Linked DNA regions of Homo sapiens. The protein of the gene in region 1 interacts with the protein of each later gene in a pairwise test. Each region holds a gene or a part of one and is shown in the gene's direction. Other genes may lie near its edges.

Region 1 (5,200 bases):
TCTAATGATCAGTAATGATCTTTTTTTCATTTTTTTTTTGGCTGCATAAATATCTTCTTTTGATTCTTTTGAGAAGTGTCCGTTCATATCCTTTGCCCACTTTTTAATGGCAGAAATACCATTTGACCCAGAAAACCCATTACTGGGTATATACCCAAAGGAATATAAATCATTCTGCTATAAAGACACATGCACACATATGTTTATTGCAGCACTATTTACAATAACAAAGACATGGAACCAACCCAAATGCCCATCAGTGATAGACTGGATAAAGAAAACGTGGTACATATATACCATGGAGTACTATGCAGCCATAAAAAAGAATGAGATAATGTCCTTTGCAGGACATGGATGAAGCTGGAAGCCATCATTCTCAGCAGACTAACACAGGAGTAGAAAACTAAACACCGAATGTTCTCACTCATAAGTGGGAGTTGAACAATAAGAACACATGGACACAGGGAGGGGAACATCACACACCGGGGCCTGTCAGGGGGTGGGGAGTGAAGGTAGGGAGAGTATTAGGACAGATACCTAATGCATGCGGGGCTTAAAACCAGACAGGTTGATAGGTATAGCAAACCTCCATGGCACATGTATACCTGTGTAACAAACCTGCATGTTCTCCACATGTATCCCTGATTTAAAGTAAAATTTTAAAAAAAGGAAAAAAAAATTAGCTGGGTGTGGTAGCACATGCCTGTAATCCCAGCTACTTGGGAGGGTGAGGTGGGAGAGTCGCCTGAATCCAGGAGGTGGAGGCTGCAGTGAGCTGAGATTGCACCACTGCACTCCAGCCTGGGTGACAGAGCGAGACTCCATCTTGGGGGGGAAAAAGAAAGTATTATTTCAAATAATTTTACAAATGAAATCATTACTACATAATTGTCCATCAAAACCTCTTCATTTAGGGCCGGGCTCGGTGGCTCACGCCTGTAATCCCAGCACTTTGGGAGGCCGACGCAGGCAGATCTCGAGGTCAGGAGATCAAGACCATCCTGGCTAACACGTTGAAACCCCGTCTCTACTAAAAATACAAATAAATTAGCCGGGCGTGGTGGCAGACGCCTGTAGTCCCAGCCACCCAGGAGGCTGAGGCAGGAGAATGGTGTGAACCCGGGAGGTGGAGCTTGTAGTGAGCCGAGATCGCGCCACTGCATTCCAGTCTGGGCAACAGAGTGAGACTCCGTCTCAAAAAAAAAAAAAACCTCTTGATTTAGAAACCGAGACAGCTTGTTCCCTTAGGATTTCACTTTTCAGGTGAATATGTGTACTTTGGGGTTGGATCAATTTTAGGGATATGAAAGGTAACAAGATTGTTGTCAATTAATTTGCATTTTCACCGTCTGTTTTTGTTATTGATTCCAATAGGGAGATTCGGCTGATTCTTTTTTCATTGTAGAATCTGGAGAAGTGAAAATTACTATGAAAAGAAAGGTAAGCATTCTAAGTCCTCAGAACCCACATACTGTTAGCAAGGAACACAACAGATCTACTTTTTGATGTTTAGACTGAGGTTAATTTTATTTTTCATAAGCTGAGGAAAAGCTCATCTTTTTAATTGCCTTGTCAGGGTAAATCAGAAGTGGAAGAGAATGGTGCAGTAGAAATCGCTCGATGCTCGCGGGGACAGTACTTTGGAGAGCTTGCCCTGGTAACTAACAAACCTCGAGCAGCTTCTGCCCACGCCATTGGGACTGTCAAATGTTTAGGTAGGGATTGCAACAGTGGGCGTGCTTCTGCTGGTTGAACTTATGTCTGCATTTTATGTATTCATGTTGAGTGAATCATTTTATTGGGTTCACAGGTTTTGTGGTCCCCACAAAAGGTAACAAGATTAGGACTCATTGCCTTATAAAATCAATTTGTGGAAGCCATTTTTTCTTCGAAATTTTTACATCCAGATACATTTTGCTCTTCTTGTGTATATATGAAATAACATCCCATATTAGTCATTAAAATAAGAGTTCCAAGTACCACGTTTTATATGGAATCTCTCAAATAAGCAACATGTGCTATGTTCCTCAAAAGAGAAGGCTAAAGTACTATTTTTATAAAGTCCGTTATTAAGATCTGCGGGGAATGCTGAGATGTTGTGAGAATCCTTACTCATTACAGTATTGGGACACAAAGGTTCAGGTTTGTCAAAGCACAGTCAAATGTTCTTTGCTGTTCAGTTGTTATTACTATTTTACCAGAGTAGCTTGGCAGAAATGTCATCTTCAGGTGCAGGCATCTGTATATATCTGAGATTATATATCTGAGAAATCACTTACTTTGATAAGAAAATACAGTTTAGAAGGTGGCAATATGGAGGGTATTTTAAGAAAATTGATCTCACAGTTATTACCCTCTCTGTGCTTTTCATCCATAATTCAATAGCATAAACTTAATGTTTTTAAGATTTGCAAGGATCCTTAGAATTAACTTCTTAGAGAAGTCATTCTTTAAAAGGGTTTAAATAAGTATAATATTAATCAAGTGTTAAATTTGGATGGAAGAGAAGACGATTAGAAACTGGCAGGTAATTTCCCTAAGTAGGGCTATTAGAAAGAGTAAAGGTGAGTGAGTGAAAGTCTATTAGAAATAGTAAAGGTGAGTGAGTGAAAGTCTATTACAGTAAAGGTGAGTGAGTGAAAGTCTATTAGAAAGAGTAAAGGTGAGTGAGTGAAAGTCTGTTAATTTTTTTTCAATAATAGATTATTATACTCACATCAAAGAAAACCTGAGAAATACAGAAAATGTAGAAAAAACATAACACCGCCACTCAGTGATTTCTGCTATTATAATTCCTTCTTGTCCTTTTTATTTGTGTGGGCTTCCAGTTGTTAAACAGTTTTCCAAACAACTTTTAAAGTTCATTATCGCTTAGGAATGTTCTTATTTTATTACACCAAATTTTAAAATTCTTTTAGGTAAATATATACACGATAAATTAATCATTCCTTAGTGGTAAATACTTCGAAGGTTTTGGCTCCAACTTTTTTGTGGGGAGCAATTTTTTGTGCATAGAAGACTTTTCTGTATTATAGGAGTTTTCCTTAGAAATGGTTTTCAGGAGTGGGTTTTTAAAAAATTAACTTTTGACACATATTGCCAGATTACTTGTATTTGTACACTACTAGCAGTGCCATAATGCCCATTCACCCTATTCTTGTAAACATTGCCTTTTTTATCTTTTTATCTTTAGTGTAAAAGGCAAAGAAGATCTATTTTAATTTGTACTTTTATGTATAGAGTATGATCATATTTTCTATTTATATATTATAAATCCAGTTTTAAAATCCAGGAGACAGGCAAGCAAAGTGATTTCTAGCATGTACTTATAGAAGTAAACAAAAGCATTATGTCAGCTGCCATTTTTGGATTGCATAGACATAGTATGGCAGCAAAACTTACAAAAGGTTAACACTTGGCCTTCACAACATGGCATTTTAAACCCTGAGAAGGGAACACAGGATAGAAAACACTCTTGTGCCACCCTTGAGGAGTTCACATTGCTAAGGTGGAGACAGCACATTTATTTTTTAAAATTCTAAGGTCTTTCCATGATAGTCCCTCATTCTTTTCTCAGCTTGGACCAGGAACCTCCCACCAACTTAGCATTGCTCATCATATTGCCGAGGGACTGCAGAGTGTGGTCCAAGAGCGTGGCCCTGGCTGCTTCCTTTTTCAAGTGGAACATTTTTATCATTATGCTTTTTCTTGTATTTTATAGTATTTACCTAAAATATCATTGCACTATTGATATATATGGAGTCGGTATTGTAAATGACTTAGAAATTCTGCAGATTTGCAAAGAATGTTATTTAAAAAAAAATCTTCTCTTTTCTCAGCAATGGATGTGCAAGCATTTGAAAGGCTTCTGGGACCTTGCATGGAAATTATGAAAAGGAACATCGCTACCTATGAAGAACAGTTAGTTGCCCTGTTTGGAACGAACATGGATATTGTTGAACCCACTGCATGAAGCAAAAGTATGGAGCAAGACCTGTAGTGACAAAATTACACAGTAGTGGTTAGTCCACTGAGAATGTGTTTGTGTAGATGCCAAGCATTTTCTGTGATTTCAGGTTTTTTCCTTTTTTTACATTTACAACGTATCAATAAACAGTAGTGATTTAATAGTCAATAGGCTTTAACATCACTTTCTAAAGAGTAGTTCATAAAAAAATCAACATACTGATAAAATGACTTTGTACTCCACAAAATTATGACTGAAAGGTTTATTAAAATGATTGTAATATATAGAAAGTATCTGTGTTTAAGAAGATAATTAAAGGATGTTATCATAGGCTATATGTGTTTTACTTATTCAGACTGATAATCATATTAGTGACTATCCCCATGTAAGAGGGCACTTGGCAATTAAACATGCTACACAGCATGGCATCACTTTTTTTTATAACTCATTAAACACAGTAAAATTTTAATCATTTTTGTTTTAAAGTTTTCTAGCTTGATAAGTTATGTGCTGGCCTTGGCCTATTGGTGAAATGGTATAAAATATCATATGCAGTTTTAAAACTTTTTATATTTTTGCAATAAAGTACATTTTGACTTTGTTGGCATAATGTCAGTAACATACATATTCCAGTGGTTTTATGGACAGGCAATTTAGTCATTATGATAATAAGGAAAACAGTGTTTTAGATGAGAGATCATTAATGCATTTTTCCCTCATCAAGCATATATCTGCTTTTTTTTATTTTGCAATTCTCTGTATTCTATGTCTTTAAAAATTTGATCTTGACATTTAATGTCACAAAGTTTTGTTTTTTTAAAAAGTGATTTAAACTTAAGATCCGACATTTTTTGTATTCTTTAAGATTTTACACCTAAAAAATCTCTCCTATCCCAAAAATAATGTGGGATCCTTATCAGCATGCCCACAGTTTATTTCTTTGTTCTTCACTAGGCCTGCATAATACAGTCCTATGTAGACATCTGTTCCCTTGGGTTTCCGTTCTTTCTTAGGATGGTTGCCAACCCACAATCTCATTGATCAGCAGCCAATATGGGTTTGTTTGGTTTTTTTAATTCTTAAAAACATCCTCTAGAGGAATAGAAACAAATTTTTATGAGCATAACCCTATATAAAGACAAAATGAATTTCTGACCTTACCATATATACCATTAGGCCTTGCCATTGCTTTAATGTAGACTCATAGTTGAAATTAGTGCAGAAAGAACTCAG
Region 2 (5,200 bases), on another chromosome or scaffold:
CTCTTCGTCTGTCCTTGCCATTAGTTCTTCACTGGACATAAGAATTCCCAGGGTGCTTTTAGGCTCTCAGAAATGCTGATCCAGCAGTATGGCATAGGACCTAGGGATCTGCATTGTATCCAGCTCCCCTAGCTTATTCTGATTTGAGAAACATTGTTCAACATCTTTGTGTGATCACTTACAAGTTTGTACTCTGGGTGACCTGTCACCCACAAATGCCAGTATATTATTATTACTTAAAATTATAATTTCTGTGTTTAATATTCCTTTATATCTCAATATTTTTTTACATTTGAAGAGCTTAGAATCAGAAGACTGCAGCTACTGCTTCCCTTCCACCCTTTTCGGCAATACCTTTTCCCCCCAAACCCTATATCCTTCTTGCTTCTCATTGCCACTTCCTGACTATTCTCTTTTCTTTCTACCTCAAAAACCCCATCTTTGATTTTCATGTTACCAGCCTATACTGCCAGCCAATGAACATAACAACCAAAATAGTCATCGTCTGACCTCTGGGTTATTTCCTTGGCTCATTGATTTCAGCACCCAGCTCACTGTCAATTCTCTCTGACATTACTCTTATCATAACTTTGAGGATCTTAGGATCTGGAGAGATGATGCTTATAATACTCTGACCTTACAGTTTCTTGGCTTTCTTTCCTCCATAGATAGTTTGATTATCTTTGTGTCTCATCTACTTATTCCCACTGCCATTCCTTAGCTCTTGTCATTACCAATATATGCCACCCCTCTAGAATCTCATTTTCAAGCATTCAATTATCAGACTACCAATCCCTATCTTTTCAGCTAACTCTCTCTAGTCCTTTGACTCTCAGTAATCATTAACCATCCCTTAAAATGATTAAATTCTGCCACCTTTTTACTGCTCCATTATCTACTTGGTGTTCTCACTTATCGGTCCTTAGCCAGCTTTTAAATTCTGTCATTACATTTTTTACTTTCCCCTTCATCTCCTGTGCTCCTCTCTTGCTTCCTCATATTTGCTTGGCAGAATCACAGTTCTGCTTAAGTCCACCTTTCTGCCCACTCTCTACCTGTCATGTATCGCTGAACGTGGCTAGAGAAAAACCTAATCATACTGTCTGTTCTCACTTTAAATTCATGGTCACTAACCTCAAATGGGTCCTAATGCTACCTGGAATCATACTGTATTTCCTCTCATCTCCTACTTTCCACAATGAGTATTTCAGACTTCTGCTTTTCTCCTCAAACTCTCAACACCTTTCCCCACATCCTCACCTTTGGGTTATATCTTCCTTTCTGTTTATAGACTTCCAACTCTTGTGTCCACCCACCTATCTGCATCTGTGCCCATGTACCCTGCCTTCCTTCCTGGAGGAACTACGCATGCCCTCCCCCTTTTCTACCCAAGGCATTACCTTAGCAGTTCACCTTCTCTTTTCTGCACCCTTAATTTTTTTTCTCTACTGGATATTTTTTACCAGCATCCAAATTTCCCTCCTCTTAAATATCCTCTCTTGACCCGTCTCTTCCTCCTCTGCCCCATTTTATTTCTTCCATTTTATAACTAAAAAATTACTTCAGTCATCTATACTTGTCTCCAGTTCCTCTTGTCTCATTGTTCTTGTACCCACTCAATAAGGCTTTTGTCCCCTCACACTGCAGAAGCTGTTCACATAGAGGTCACCAGTGACTTCCACATTCCCAAAGCCTGTGGGCTGGTCCTTATCTTCCTCATCCTACCTACAGCTTTGTAGGAGAGCTGGTCTCTCCCAACTCCTTAACCACTTTCTTGACTTGGCTTGAGAAAAACCACATTTCTCTCATTTTTTCCTTGTTCATCACTCCTCAGTCTCCATTATTCCTTAACCACCTAGGGTCATGTCATTGGACCTTTCCTTTCCTTTTTTTTTTTCCTATCTACGCTCACTCCCCTATTGATCCCATTGAATTTCATAGCTTTAACACTGTGTATATGCTGACAATTCCTAAATTTATATATCTAGCCAAGACCTCGCCTCTTCATGACAGAATAACTTTCAACTGCCTGTTTCCTATCTCCACTATGATGTCTAAAATGTGTCAAACTTAACATGTCCAAGCTAAAGGTCCTGTCTTTCTCTTCCTCATCTCCCCAACACTGATTCATGTTTTAGTTGATAACAACTCAATTTGCTCAACCTAAAACCTCGGAGTCATCCTAGACTTCTCTTTTCTCAGCATGATAGCCAGAATGATTCTGCTGTAATGTAAGTCAAATTATATCACTTCCTATACAAAAACCTTCCAGCAGCTTCTCTTAAAAATCTGTTATCCTAATGGCCTACGTGGTCTCATTCCCAGTTATCTCTCTTACCTTGTCTTCTCCTACTTTCCCTTTCATTCACTTTATTCCAGCCACACCAATTTCCTTTCTCACCCTTAAACACACCAGGATGCTCTTATTTCAAGGCTATTCTTTCCACCCAGAATATTGTAACTTCACCCTCATCTCCCTAGGTGTTTACTTAAATGTTTTTCACTCAGTCTGGCCATCCCTTTTAAAAATTACAACCCCAACTGTGAAGACTTCATGCTCTGTTTTCTCCAAAACGTGTATTACCATCTGCTATACCATACAAGAAATGTGTCATCTGTTGCCCCCAGTTGAGTAGGACTAGGGTTTTTGTTTGTTTTGTTAAGTATTGTATCCCTGACTCCTAAAGCAGTACCTGGCATATATAGTAGAATGATTGAATGAATGAATGAATATCAGAAATTTGGTTAACAACACTTATCTTAAGGAGCCTGAGACTTCTGGAGTTGAGGGTCCTGGAAGACAGTGATAGAAAGATTGAGTTTCCTTTCCCTTTGATTTGCCCCATTTTCATAAATATTGAAATCACTTTCTTGATCATGCAATTTGATGTTACTATTGATCCATCATTAATTTTGAACTGTTTGGCTTTGGGTTACAAATATTTGTTAAAATTTGGTACAGATTTTCTTTGTTATTCAAACTTTTGCAGTTCCTCTGTTGAGATAATACAAATTTGGATATCAAAGGATATTGTGTTATCTGAATCTACTTGGTTCCTTAGTTTTAGATACTGGGAAGTAAGATTTGGGTTACCAAGGGACTTATCTGAAAATTTAATCTGTTCAATTCCTGGGTCTGGATATCAAGAATTTGGATAGCGAGGGATATCTGTAATCATACTTTAAAATTTTAGTTATCTTAGCATCAGTTTTCTGAAAATTCACTAGAAAATTATAACAACCCTTAGGTGGCAGCAAATCAGTGAAAAACATCTGAATCCAGTGCTTAACATCTGCGTGTCATACTCCTCACCATCAGGGTGTTAAATTTAGAAAGACAGATATCCAGAGGCACAGTATGTGAGGAAGTTAGTATTACTCTCCAGCTCTGTTAGCTGAGTGAGTAATGGGGCTCCCGCTGTGGAGAAAGGTGCAAGCGTACCCAGGGACATGGGGAGAAATTAAAGTTAAAGGGAGTCTGGGAAGTAGTGACAGTGAGGAGAAGCACTCAGAAATTAAGTACTCTAATTGCCTCCTCAGGAATTCCGTCAGAAATCGCTGGACTGGGAGAAGCAACGCTTGATTTATCAGCAACAGGTATCTTCACTGGAGGCACAAAGGAAGGCTCTGGCTGAACAATCAGAGATAATTCAGGTAGGCCTAAGACTTTTTAAAATAATGAGAAGCAGATAGGTTTTGATCAAGTTTGAACTACCTTAATGCAGTGTCCTAGTACCATTTAGCCTCTTTCAGCTTCTCTCCACGAACCCTGCTCTCTTGTTTAGGAAGCCTCTCCTCAGCATCTAGACTCAGCTCCTTCTTCCCGCCTGCCCTCACACATGCGTGCATTCACTCTCCTGTCCAGGCTCATGTCCTTGTGCCCGCTTGCTGCTTTGCCTCCTTGCTTGTTTCTGACTTGCTCACCCACTCTCTGTCATTGTCTTGCTTACTCAGGCTCACTCTATGCTTGCATCCATGTTCACTCTCCTCATCTTGGTCCCTAGCTTTGTCGCCCTCTCTTCCTCCCCTCTCTTTCTTCCCTACCACAGTCCCATTCCTCCCTCTGTCTCCTTTTCCATGTCTTTCTGTCTCTTGTTGGGTCTCTCAGCTCTACTATAGTCTGTGCCTTGCTCCATCCCTATGGTCACTGGGGTATCTTGGCCGAAGTGTCTCAGCTAGGGAGCTTCAGTTAGTCTGCCTATGCGGACAGATACGGAGAGAGTCACATGGCAATGGTGTGCACACCAACTAAAAGTGGTGTCTTTGTGGTAACAAAAACACTTATTTTAGAACATTGATAGAAACTTTTCTTGTAATGGCTTAAGCAAAACCAAAAAACAGACACCTACTTTAGGAATATGTCTTGTAAGAACATATTCAGCTCATTCCTTTTTCAGTTAGAATCAAGAACATAAAGGAAACTAAAAAAATTTGTGATCATCTGTTATGTGCTAGACATTGACCCAGTGCTTCTTGTATGTGTTCTCTGTTTAATATTATGATAATCTGTCAAGGTTGGTAGTTATCTTAGTTTTATAGAATGAGGGAACAGCCTGGGTAAGTTGAAATAGCTAGAAGGGAGGGTTTTTTTTTTTTTTTTTTTTGGCTTTTTGGGTTTTTAAAAATAATCTGCATTTATTTGCTATTTTAAGTCTCAATAATGCATTAACTTTTTGTTCGTCTCCCTGAAATATCAGCAGTCTGATAAACTACCGACAGTGGCTGTGGCTCTGCTGTGAGTGACTTCATTCAAAATGGTAGGAAAAGTCCACAACAATTGCAAGGAAGAAATTTATTTTCTAGGCCACAGCAAGCTGTGCAGCCAGACAGACCAGTGAAATCCTGAGATGTCTGGACCAGTTTTTTTGACTTGAATGCCAAAGCACCATAGAGACCTAATAAGAAATTGTGTGTGTGTGTATATATATATATATATATATGTATATATATATTTTTTTAACAACAAAAAATTTTTTTTGGTTTTCTTGAGATGAGGTCTTGCTGCATTGCTCAGGCTGATCTTGAATTCCTGGGCTCCAGCAATCCTTCCACCTTGGCCTCCTAAAGTGCTGGGATTACAGGTGTGAGCCACCACACTTGACCAAGATATTGTTATATTCTAGTTGTAGCCTTCAGATTGACAAAAAAGCAAATTGAGTCTTAATTTTTACAGTTCTCAATTATTTATCCATGGAGTATT
Region 3 (5,200 bases), on another chromosome or scaffold:
AGAAAAGCAAGTCACAGTATGCATGGTAAAATCCGTTATATTAAAATAAGTTCTTCCAAAACAAAAACATATGCAGGAGACCTTTATTTTGTCAGTATTTCTTACCCAAATTTCTGCACTTAGAAAATTGCATGTCATGTTGTCATAAGTTGAAAAAAAGATCCATGAACCAATGGACTTCTAATAAAATCAGTCCTGCTTTTGACATCTCTCTCTACTTTTGTGTATATTCAAACCAGAGTGTCAATGTGTTTGTGGGGCACACTTAGCAATAATACATAGCAGACAAAATGCATATAGCTCAGAGAGTAAAATTGTAAGTTTTGCTAGATCACTCATAAATTGCTGATGAGAATTTAAAATGGTGCAGATGCTCTGGAAAACAGGCAGTTTCTTTCTTTCTTTTTTTTTTTCTTTTTGAGACAGGGTCTCACTCTGTTGCGCAGGCTGGAGTACAGTGGCGTGATTACAACTCACTGCAGCCTCACCCTCCTCAGGTTCAGGTGATCCTCCCTCAGTCTCCTGAGTAGCTGGGACTATAGGCATGCACCACCACGCCTGGCTAATTTTTGTATTTTTTTTTTTTTTTTTTGTAGAGACGGGGTTTCGCCATGTTTCCCAGGCTGGTCTCAAACTCCTGGAATCAAGCGATCCACTTGCGTAGGCCTCCCAAAGTGCTGGGATTACGGGCGTGAGCTACTGTGCCTGGCCTAGGCAGTTTGTTTGTTTGTTTGTTTGTTTGTTTATTTATTTGTAGACGGAGTCTCACAGGCTGGAGTGCAGTGGCCCAATTTTTGGCTCACTGCAACCTCCGCCTCCCAGGTTCAAGCTATTCTCCTGCCTCAGCCTCCTGAGTAGCTGGGATGACAGGTGCCTGCCATAATGCCTGGCTGATTTTTGTATATTTAGTAGATATGGGGTTTCACCATGTTGGTCAGGCTGGTTTTGAACTCCTGACCTCAGGTGATCAGCCCGCCTCGGCCTCCCAAAGTGCTGGGATTACAGGCATGAGCCGTCATCCCTGGCTGGTGGTTTCTTATGACGTGAAACATGCAATTACCATATGACCTAGCAGTTGCACTCTGTATTTATCCCAGATAAATGAAAACTTACCTTCCAATAAAAACCTGTGCACAAATGTTCATAGCAGCTTAATATTGAAAAACTGGATGTTCTTCAGCAGGTGAATGAACTGGTTCATTCATACCATGGAATACCATTCAGCAATAAAAAGGAACAAACTGTTGATACATTTAACCACCTGGATGAATATCAAGGGAATTATGCTGTCAGACAAAAACCAGTCCCTAAAGACTACATATAGTATGATTCCGTTTGGATAATATTCTTGAAATAGAGAAATTAAGAGAAATGAAAAGATTAGTGTTTGCCAGATGTTAGAGACAGGGAGGTGAGAGGGGTAAGTGGGTGTAGTTATAAAAGTGCAACATGAGGGATCTTTGTGATGTTGAAGTTGTATCTTGGCAGTGGATGCAGAAATCTCAATGTGATAAAATTACAAAGAACTAAAAACAAGAATGAGTATAGATAAAACTGGGGAAATCTGAACAAGTTAGAGTGTTGTATCACTGTCAGTATCTTAGAGTGATATTGTACTATAGCTTTGCAAGATGTTACCATGGGAGAAACTAAAGTGTACAAGGGATCTCTAGGTATTATTATTTTTTTAGAGATGGGGTTTCACTATGTTCCCCAGGCCGGTCTTGAACTCCTGGGCTCTAGTGATCCGCCTGCCCCAGCCTCCTAAAGTACTGGAATTACAGGCGTGAGCGACCATGCCTGGCCCTTTCAGTATTGTATCTTAGAACTTCATGTGAATCTAGCATTATCTCATAGAATTTAATTAAAAGAAATTGTAAACCTCACAGAAGATCAGAATTTCCTCAAGTTTGTGATGTTGACAAAGATGAACTAGTTGACACTGACAGTAAGACTGAGGATGAAGACACGACGTGCTTCAAAAAAATGATTTGAATATCAATGGATTAAGAAGAACTCTTTTGACAAATTGATGAAACCCTCAGTCAGTTTTATAAGAATGCCCATCTTTATGATCATGCTATGAAAGCCAATTTTTAAAAAAATTTTTTGTCTTTCCTAACAATTAGCTTGTGGTTATAATTTAAATTTAGTTAAATATAAGATAAATGATTTTTTATTAAGTTTAGTTTCATTTTTCAAGGTACGATCTCAAAGCTACTCTTTAACCTACTATGAATGAATAATGCTGAGTTCATAACATCTTTGTAGATATATCCACAATTTTCCCTCAGGATAAGTGCCTACAAGTGGAATTACTGGACTGAAAATAATGCAGTTTGCTAAGACTTTGCTATCTGTTCCTGAATGCTCCTCCAAAAAGGTTTTGCCAGTTTACATCCTCATGACCAGCGAATGAGAGTGTTGCCTATTTTCCTGTGCCCTTGTTACTGCTTAATAATTTTTGAAAAAAATCTAATTTGACAGACAAAAATGCATTTTATGTTAATTTGCTTTTCTGGGATTTTTAATGAGGTTGAGTATAGTTTTTAATATTTTTATTGGCCCCTTTGGAACTAGTATCATAAGTTTTTTTTCTTAAGAATTTATGTAGTCTGGGCTGGGCGCAGTGGCTCACGCCTGCAATCCCAGCACTTTGGGAGGCCGAGGTGGGTGGATTGCCGAAGGTCAGGAGTTTGAGACCATCCTGACCAACATGGTGAAACCGAATCTCTACTAAAAGTACAAAAACTAGCTCAGCGTGGTGGCGGGTGCCTGTAATCCCAGCTACTTAGGAGGCTGAGTCAAGAGAATCGCTTGAACCCGGGAGGTGGAGGTTGGTTGCATTGAGCCGAGATCGCGCCATTGCTCTCCAGCCTAGGCAACAAGAGTGAAAAGTCTCAAAAAAAAAAAAAAAAAAAAAAAAAAGAATTTACATGGTCTGAATTGCCATTAAAAGAGATATGAGAATTATTGAGTAACAAATAACTTTTTAATAATTTAGGCAAGTTTTGGACGATTGTACTTTGTTTAGAAACCAAAAGCATAGTATTTGTAGTTTTTTTATTTACTTTAGTTGCTAGGAAGTAAACTTTATTCAAGGTCTCTGGTACCAGTTGTTGCTAAAAGTGATTGACTAATCTGTCAATCTGAAATTATTTGTTGCTGAACTGCTAATTCTTTTGCTTCTATCTTTTAGGCAGATCTTGTCTGGACTACCAGACTCAAGAGACCAAATCAAGCCTTTCTAAGACCCTTGAACAAGTCTTGCACGACACTATTGTCCTCCCTTACTTCATTCAATTCATGGAACTTCGGCGAATGGAGCATTTGGTGAAATTTTGGTTAGAGGCTGAAAGTTTTCATTCAACAACTTGGTCGCGAATAAGAGCACACAGTCTAAACACAGTGAAGCAGAGCTCACTGGCTGAGCCTGTCTCTCCATCTAAAAAGCATGAAACTACAGCGTCTTTTTTAACTGATTCTCTTGATAAGAGATTGGAGGATTCTGGCTCAGCACAGTTGTTTATGACTCATTCAGAAGGAATTGACCTGAATAATAGAACTAACAGCACTCAGAATCACTTGCTGCTTTCCCAGGAATGTGACAGTGCCCATTCTCTCCGTCTTGAAATGGCCAGAGCAGGAACTCACCAAGTTTCCATGGAAACCCAAGAATCTTCCTCTACACTTACAGTAGCCAGTAGAAATAGTCCCGCTTCTCCACTAAAAGAATTGTCAGGAAAACTAATGAAAAGTGAGTATGTGATTTTCTTGTGTGTACATATGTGTCTCACTTTCTTTTTTTAATTTACTAAGCAGAACTTCAGATGAGGAATAAAATGATTGGAATATTTTTTTTCTCCTCTAACTACTTGTAAATTTGGGAGAATTTGGAGAGTGTAGTAGAGTCAGATCAGTGTATGGAAAAGGAGCAGGAGTGACTGGACCTTCTAAGAAGTGTGTTATCAGAATTAGTAAATGAAGGGTCAAATGTCCTACTTTTCCCCTCCACTGATTTTGACATCAAACCATTATCCACATAGCCTTATTTCCTCCCTCGGTCTTAATTTTATTAATATTTTACTGCACTTTGCAGATAAAATTTTTAAAAAATTTTTAAAAATTGCCAATAAGTGACATTTATTAAGTTCAGTGCTTAGTGTATATTTGGATTTTATTTATTAGTCACAAGACCTTTGTGCAGGTAGTAGGCATGATTATCTTTTTTTTTTTGAGATGGAGTCTTGCTCTGTCGCCCAGGCTGGAGTGCAATGGCGCGGTCTCGGCTCACTGCAACCTCCGGGTTCATGCCATTCTCCTGCCTCAGCCTCCCAAATAGCTGGGACTACAGGCGCCTGCCACCACACCCGGCTAATTTTTTTGTATTTTTAGTAGAGACGGGGTTTCACCATGTTCGCCAGGATGGTCTCGATCTCCTGACTTTGTGATCCGCCTGCCTCGGCCTCCCAAAGTGCTGGGATTACAGGCATGAGCCACCGCGCCCGGACTGATTATCTTATTTACACATGAGAAAACCAGGGCTTAGAAAGGTTAGGTAACTTCCTCTAGGTTGTACAGTAAATGTGGACCTAGAAGCATTTTGACAAGAGCACCTGTTTTTTTTTCTTCTCTATTAGTTTAGAAATTATATACTCTTAATTATCACCTGGGATTTTGATTAGACAGCCTTCATGTTCTTTTTCATCTTAAATGTTCTTTGTGTCTTAAAGGGCTAAGTGATTTCTTCAGATCTTTTAGTTCACTCATTCTCAGTGAACTAAAATGAGGTCTAATCTGCTACTGAATCAAGTTTTCAGCATGTTATTTCCTTCCTCCCTCCCTCCCTCCTTCCTTCCCTCAACCAGGCTCCCGAGGAGCTGGGATTACAGGCGCCCGCCACCACTCCTGGCTAATTTTTATATTTTAGTAGAGACGGGGTTTCACCATGTTGGTCAGGCTGATCTTGAACTCCTGACCTCAAGTGACCCACCTGCCTCGGCCTCCCAAAGTGCTGGGATTACAGGCATGAATCACCACACCTGACGGCATGTTATTTTCATCGCAAAGTTACTGTAAGCTGGGAGAAGTGGCACACACTTGTACTCCCAGCTACTCAGGAAGCTTAAGGTGAGAAGATTGCTTGAGCCCAGGAGTTTTGAGACCAACCTGGGCAACACAGCAAGACCCCAGCTCAAAC
Region 4 (5,200 bases), on another chromosome or scaffold:
TCCCAGCACTTTGGGAGTCCAAAGTGGGTGGATCACTTGAGGTCAGGAGTTCAAGACCAGCCTGGCCAACATGGTGAACCCCCGTCTCTACTAAAACTACAAAAAATTAGCCAGGCATGGTGGCACACGCCTGTAGTCCCAGCTACTCGGGAGGCTGAGACAGGAGAATCACTTGAATCCGGGAGGCGGAGGTTGCAGTGAGCCAAGATTGTGCCATTGCACTCCAGCCTGGGCGACAGAACGAAACTTTGTCTCAAAAAAAAAAAAAACACTATCTTAGCCGGCGCGCTGGCTCACGCCTGTAATCCCAGCACTTTGGGAGGCCGAGGCGGGTGGATCACCTGAGGTCAAGAGTTCGAGACCAGCCTGGCCAACTTGGAGAAACCCCATCTCTACTGAAAATACAAAATTAGCCGGGCGTGGTGGCGCATGCCTCCAATCCCAGCTACTCGGGAGGCTGAAGCAGGAGAATCACTTGAACCTGGATTCTCCCGGGAGGCGGAGGTTGCGGTGAGCCGAGATAGCGCCATTGCTCTCCAGCCTGGGCAACAAGAACAAAACTCTGACTCAAACAAACAAACAAACAAACAAAAAACAAAACACTGTCTTTATACTTTTTTTTTTTTTTTGAGATGTAGTCTCCCTCTGTAGCCCAGGCTGGAAGGCTGGAGTGCAGTGGTGCGATCTCGGCTCACAGCAACCTCTGCCTCCTGGGTCCCGGTTCAAGCAATTCTCCTGCCTCAGCCTCCTGTGTAGCTGGGATTACAGGCATGAGCCACCATGCCCAGCTAATTTTTGTATTTTTAGTAGAGACGAGGTTTCACCATGTTGGCCAGAGTGGTCTTCAACTCCTGACCTCGTGATATGCCTGCCTCAGGCTCCCAAAGTGCTGGGATTACAGGCGTGAGCCACCGCGCCGGGCCTTTATATTTCTTTTTAAAAGTTAAGACAGGTTGGGGAGTGGGGAGATCTCACTATGTTGCCCAGGCTGGTTTCAAACTCATAGCCTCAAACTGTCCCCCTGCTTCAGCCTCCTGAATAGCTGAGATTACAGGCACATGCCACCACACCCACTTCATTTTAACATCATTTTAAAAGAGCCAGGTGCCCTCAGTTGCTCCTAGCAGGGATTGGGTTTCTTATCAAAGATTCAACTTGGAATCAATATTGCTAGGCACTCCAAAGAAGTGCTACTTTTTTTCTACTACATTTTGATTTAAGTCATTATGGTGTTTTTTTTGTTTTTTGTTTTGTTTTTGAGATGGAGTTTTGCTCTTGTTGCCCAGGCTGGAGTGCAATGGCGCGATCTTGGCTCACTGCAACCTCCACCTCCCAGGTTCAAGCAATTGTCCTGCCTCAGCCTCCCAAGTAGCTGGGATTACAGGCGCCCGCCACCACACCCGGCAAATTTTGCATTTTTAGTAGAGACGGGGTTTCACCATGTTGGTCAGGCTGGTCTTGAACTCCTGACCTCAGGTGATCCGCCCGCCTCGGGCTCTCAAAGGGCTGGGATTACAGGCGTGAGCCACCGCGCCGGGCCTCATTATGATTTTGAGAATGTGAGAATCCTTGGTTTTCAGGAAAAGTAGATAGCAGCAGCCAGGCACAGGTCTGACTCCTACCCTTAAACCCCTAATCCCCTCCCTAGAGGCAATAACTGCTTCCTGTCTCTTGTGATTCTTCAAGAGATGATCTGTACTTATATGAGTGCGTTCACATGTGTGTACACACACAGGCACACAGTAACTTCTTTTTTTCCCCAGGAAAAAGAAAATGAGTGAGACTCAAAATTCAACAAGCCAGAAAGCAATGGATGAGGATAACAAAGCCGCAAGCCAAACAATGCCGAATACACAAGACAAGAACTACGAGGATGAATTGACTCAAGTAGCTCTAGCTCTGGTTGAGGATGTCATCAATTATGCTGTTAAGATTGTGGAAGGTAGTGATCCTGTTTGTTTGGATGCCTAAATAATTGTCTATATAGTCTAAATATAGCACCACACTACCTGGCAACTAACGAACTCACACCTTTTTTTTGCAGAGGAGCGAAACCCTTTGAAAAACATCAAGTGGATGACTCACGGTGAATTCACTGTGGAAAAGGGTCTTAAACAAATTGACGAATATTTTTCGGTAAGTTAGGCCGACCACTCCAGCATGGTACACCGGTGTGAAGAACAATAAAGAGACTCTCAGCAGATCAAAAGTTTGAAGTCTGGAAAATCTAGGAGATGGTATCAAAGGGGGCTGACTAGAATAAGTAAACATCATCTCCATCTCAGTTCCAAAATCAAGGTGGGATAGTCTTTGAAGGTGAAATGCACAATCACAATCATTTTCCCTGTGTCTGTATCATTCTAACCTTACATTTCCCTGGGAAAATCTGCTCTTCCTACTTAAGCAATTTGTCCATGCTGGTGCATTAAATGGGGGCCTAGTGGCCTAAGGAGGGAGATGCTCCTCCAAAATAGGAGTTCTCCACCACCATTATTTTGTTTATTTTTTTTAGAGACAGGGTCCCACTCTGTCACCGAGGCTGCAGTGCAGGGGCTCGATCCTAGCTCCCTGCAGCTTTGAACTCCTGGGCTCAAGCGATCTTCCCACCTCAGCCTTCCAAGTAGACAGGCACGTGTCACCACACCTGGCTAATTTTTAATTTTTTTTTGTAGAGACAGGGTCGTGCTATGTTGCTCAGGTTGGCCTCGAACTCCTGGCCTCAAGGGATCCTCCTGCCTTGGCCTCCCAAAGTGCTGGGATTACAGGTGTGAGCCATTGCACCCAGCCTCCACCACCAACTTTAGAATGCTCCTGTTAACAGAGGGGATGCAGATGGATCAAAAGACTTTTTGATTTGGCTTTGGAATATATTGCCTGCATAGTAAGATGTACAATCCCATGAATTCCTTTGTTCTTCTGCCTGTGTCTGACTCTGACTTCTTCGTGTGGCAGCTTTGCTGAGAAGGCCCTGGATTACTTTGCATAACTGGTGAGTGAATAAAGGAGAATGGCTTGGGCCAGGCGCAGTGGTTCACATCTGTAATCCCAGCACTTTGAAATACCAAGACGGGAGAATCAATCATTTGAGCCTAAGAGTTTGAGACAGCCTGGGCAACATAGTGGGACCCCATCTCTATAAAACTAAAAAATTAGGCCAGGCATAGTGGCTCACGCCTGTAAGCCCAGCACTTTGGGAGGCCGAAGTGGGCAGATCACAAGGTCAGGAGTTCAAGTCCAGCCTGGCCAATATGGTGAAACCCCGTCTCTATTAAAAATACAAAAATTAGCCAGGCGTGGTGCTGGGCGCCTGTAATCCCAGCTACTCGGGAGGCTGAGGCAGAAGAATCGCTTGAACCCAGGAGGCAGAGGTTGCAGTGAGCTGAGATTACACCACTGCATTCTCAATCCTGGGCGACAGAGCAAGACTCCGTCTCAAAAAATAATAATAATAATTAGCCGGGCGTGGTGGTATGCACGTATAGTTCCAGCTACTCAGGAGGCTGAGGTGGGAGGATCACTTGAGCCCAGGAGGTCGAGGCTGCAGTAAGCTGTGATTGTGCCACTGCACTCAGCCTGGGTGACAGAGTGAGACCCTGTCTCAAAAAAAAAAAAGGCTTGAAATCCTTCTCATTGTGCTTCTGTGGAACAGAGACCAGTTGAAATTGGTGGAGGCGAACTCCCCTACCCCTGGGAAAAGTTCCAGCTCTCTCTGTTCCCCAGGCCAGCACCTCAAAGCCTACAGCCCTCAGGGCAGTTTCCCAGGCCTTAGGAAGGCCTGGTCAGGTGTGAAGGAGGAAAAGTCAGGGATTTCTGGCTCCACGCCTTCTATGCTCCAGCGGACGCCACTCACCGTTCTCATTAGGAGGGGTATCTTGAGCATAGTGAAGATGAATGGTGCAAGTTATTCTTGAGCCTTCCTGCTGTGGAGCACTTCTCCATTTGGGGTTGGGCAAAGGCCCCTGCCTACTGCACTCAGGGTTCCTGAATCAAACTAGAATGGAACACATAGCAAGTAGGAAAAATTTCCCTTGCAAATCCCACTGGTCATTCTGAGTAAAAGGCAAAAGTAAGTCCTGACAATGGTCTACAAGGCCCAATATGATCTGAGTTCCCTTTCCCCTCCTGATTTATGGTTCAGCTCCCATCACTCCTTCCCCCCTCTCACCTTCTTCCCTCGGCCACACTTGCCTCCTTGCCGTTCCTCGACTGCCAGGCATGTTCCCCTGTCAGGACCCTTGCTCTTGCTGTTCCCTCTGCCTGGAACCCTCTCCCCTAAGATGTATACCCATGGCTCACTGCTTTACCTCCCTTCAGATCTTTGTTGAAAACTATCACCTGCTCATTGAGGCTTTTCTTGGCCACTTCATCTAAAATCACAACCCTCTCCACTTCTCTGATTCATTTTTCCCTTCGCACTTCTTTCTGCCTACTAGAGTCTATTTACTTGTCCTACTGCCTGTCTTCCACCCCCAGACCATATGGTCCATGAGGGCAGATTTCTCTTGACTGCTCTCTTCCCAGCCCCTAGCAATGTCAGGTACACAGATGCTCAATAACTCTATGTTGAATACATGAGCAGATTTATTATTGCATTACCGTATTTCTTCACAGATGAAGAGCCAGGTCAAAGGATTTGTCTTACCTATTTCGTAGGGCTGTTGTGAGGACAGAGACAATTAAAAAGTAAATGACTGAAAAGCTAAACATGTTATATTAACTCATGATGTAAAATCGCCCTGTTCCCAGCCCCACTAATGCAGCATGCCTGGCATTTCTTTTTTTTTTTTTTTTTTTTTTTTTTTGAGACGGAGTCTCACTCTGTCGCCCAGGCTGGAGTGCAGTGGCGTGATCTTGGCTCACTGCACCCTCCGCCTCCTAGGTTCAAGTGATTCTCCTATCTCAGCCTCCCGAGTAGCTGGGACTACAGGCGTGTGCCACCGTGCTGGCTAATATTTTGTATTTTTAGTAGAGACAGGGTTTCACCATGTTAGCCAGGATGGTCTCGATCTTCTGACCTTGTGATCCGCCTGCCTCGGCCTCCCAAAGTGCTGGGATTACAGGCGTGAGCCATCGCGCCCGGCCCTTCTTTTTTTTTTTTTTGAGACAGAGTTTCACTCTTGTCACCCAGGCTGGAGTGCAATGGTGCGATCTCGGCCTACTACAACCTCCACCTCCTGGGTTCAAGTGATTCTCTTGCCTC

What was found. The genes of interacting proteins can lie anywhere in the genome.
Region 2: the proteins of PRKAR2B (region 1) and CEP63 interact in a two-hybrid assay, tested with the Homo sapiens proteins (one large-scale study listed by IntAct).
Region 3: the proteins of PRKAR2B (region 1) and AKAP10 interact in a two-hybrid assay, tested with the Homo sapiens proteins (one large-scale study listed by BioGRID).
Region 4: the proteins of PRKAR2B (region 1) and AKAP14 interact in binary tests that used the Homo sapiens proteins (3 or more experiments, as listed by UniProt).

The regions. Positions count from the first base shown.
Region 1 is NC_000007.14:107,155,610-107,160,809, forward strand, and holds part of PRKAR2B (cAMP-dependent protein kinase type II-beta regulatory subunit), read left to right. Parts: intron 1-1,374; coding exon 1,375-1,440; intron 1,441-1,576; coding exon 1,577-1,715; intron 1,716-3,839; coding exon 3,840-3,973; 3' UTR 3,974-5,200. UniProt on the Homo sapiens protein: Regulatory subunit of the cAMP-dependent protein kinases involved in cAMP signaling in cells. Type II regulatory chains mediate membrane association by binding to anchoring proteins, including the MAP2 kinase.
Region 2 is NC_000003.12:134,533,615-134,538,814, forward strand, and holds part of CEP63 (centrosomal protein of 63 kDa), read left to right. Parts: intron 1-3,540; coding exon 3,541-3,654; intron 3,655-5,200. UniProt on the Homo sapiens protein: Required for normal spindle assembly.
Region 3 is NC_000017.11:19,956,571-19,961,770, reverse strand, and holds part of AKAP10 (A-kinase anchor protein 10, mitochondrial isoform 1 precursor), read left to right. Parts: intron 1-3,199; coding exon 3,200-3,757; intron 3,758-5,200. UniProt on the Homo sapiens protein: Differentially targeted protein that binds to type I and II regulatory subunits of protein kinase A and anchors them to the mitochondria or the plasma membrane.
Region 4 is NC_000023.11:119,901,451-119,906,650, forward strand, and holds part of AKAP14 (A-kinase anchor protein 14), read left to right. Parts: intron 1-1,763; 5' UTR 1,764-1,773; coding exon 1,774-1,942; intron 1,943-2,044; coding exon 2,045-2,136; coding exon of another isoform or gene 2,137-2,145; exon of another isoform or gene 2,146-2,209; intron 2,210-5,200. UniProt on the Homo sapiens protein: Binds to type II regulatory subunits of protein kinase A and anchors/targets them.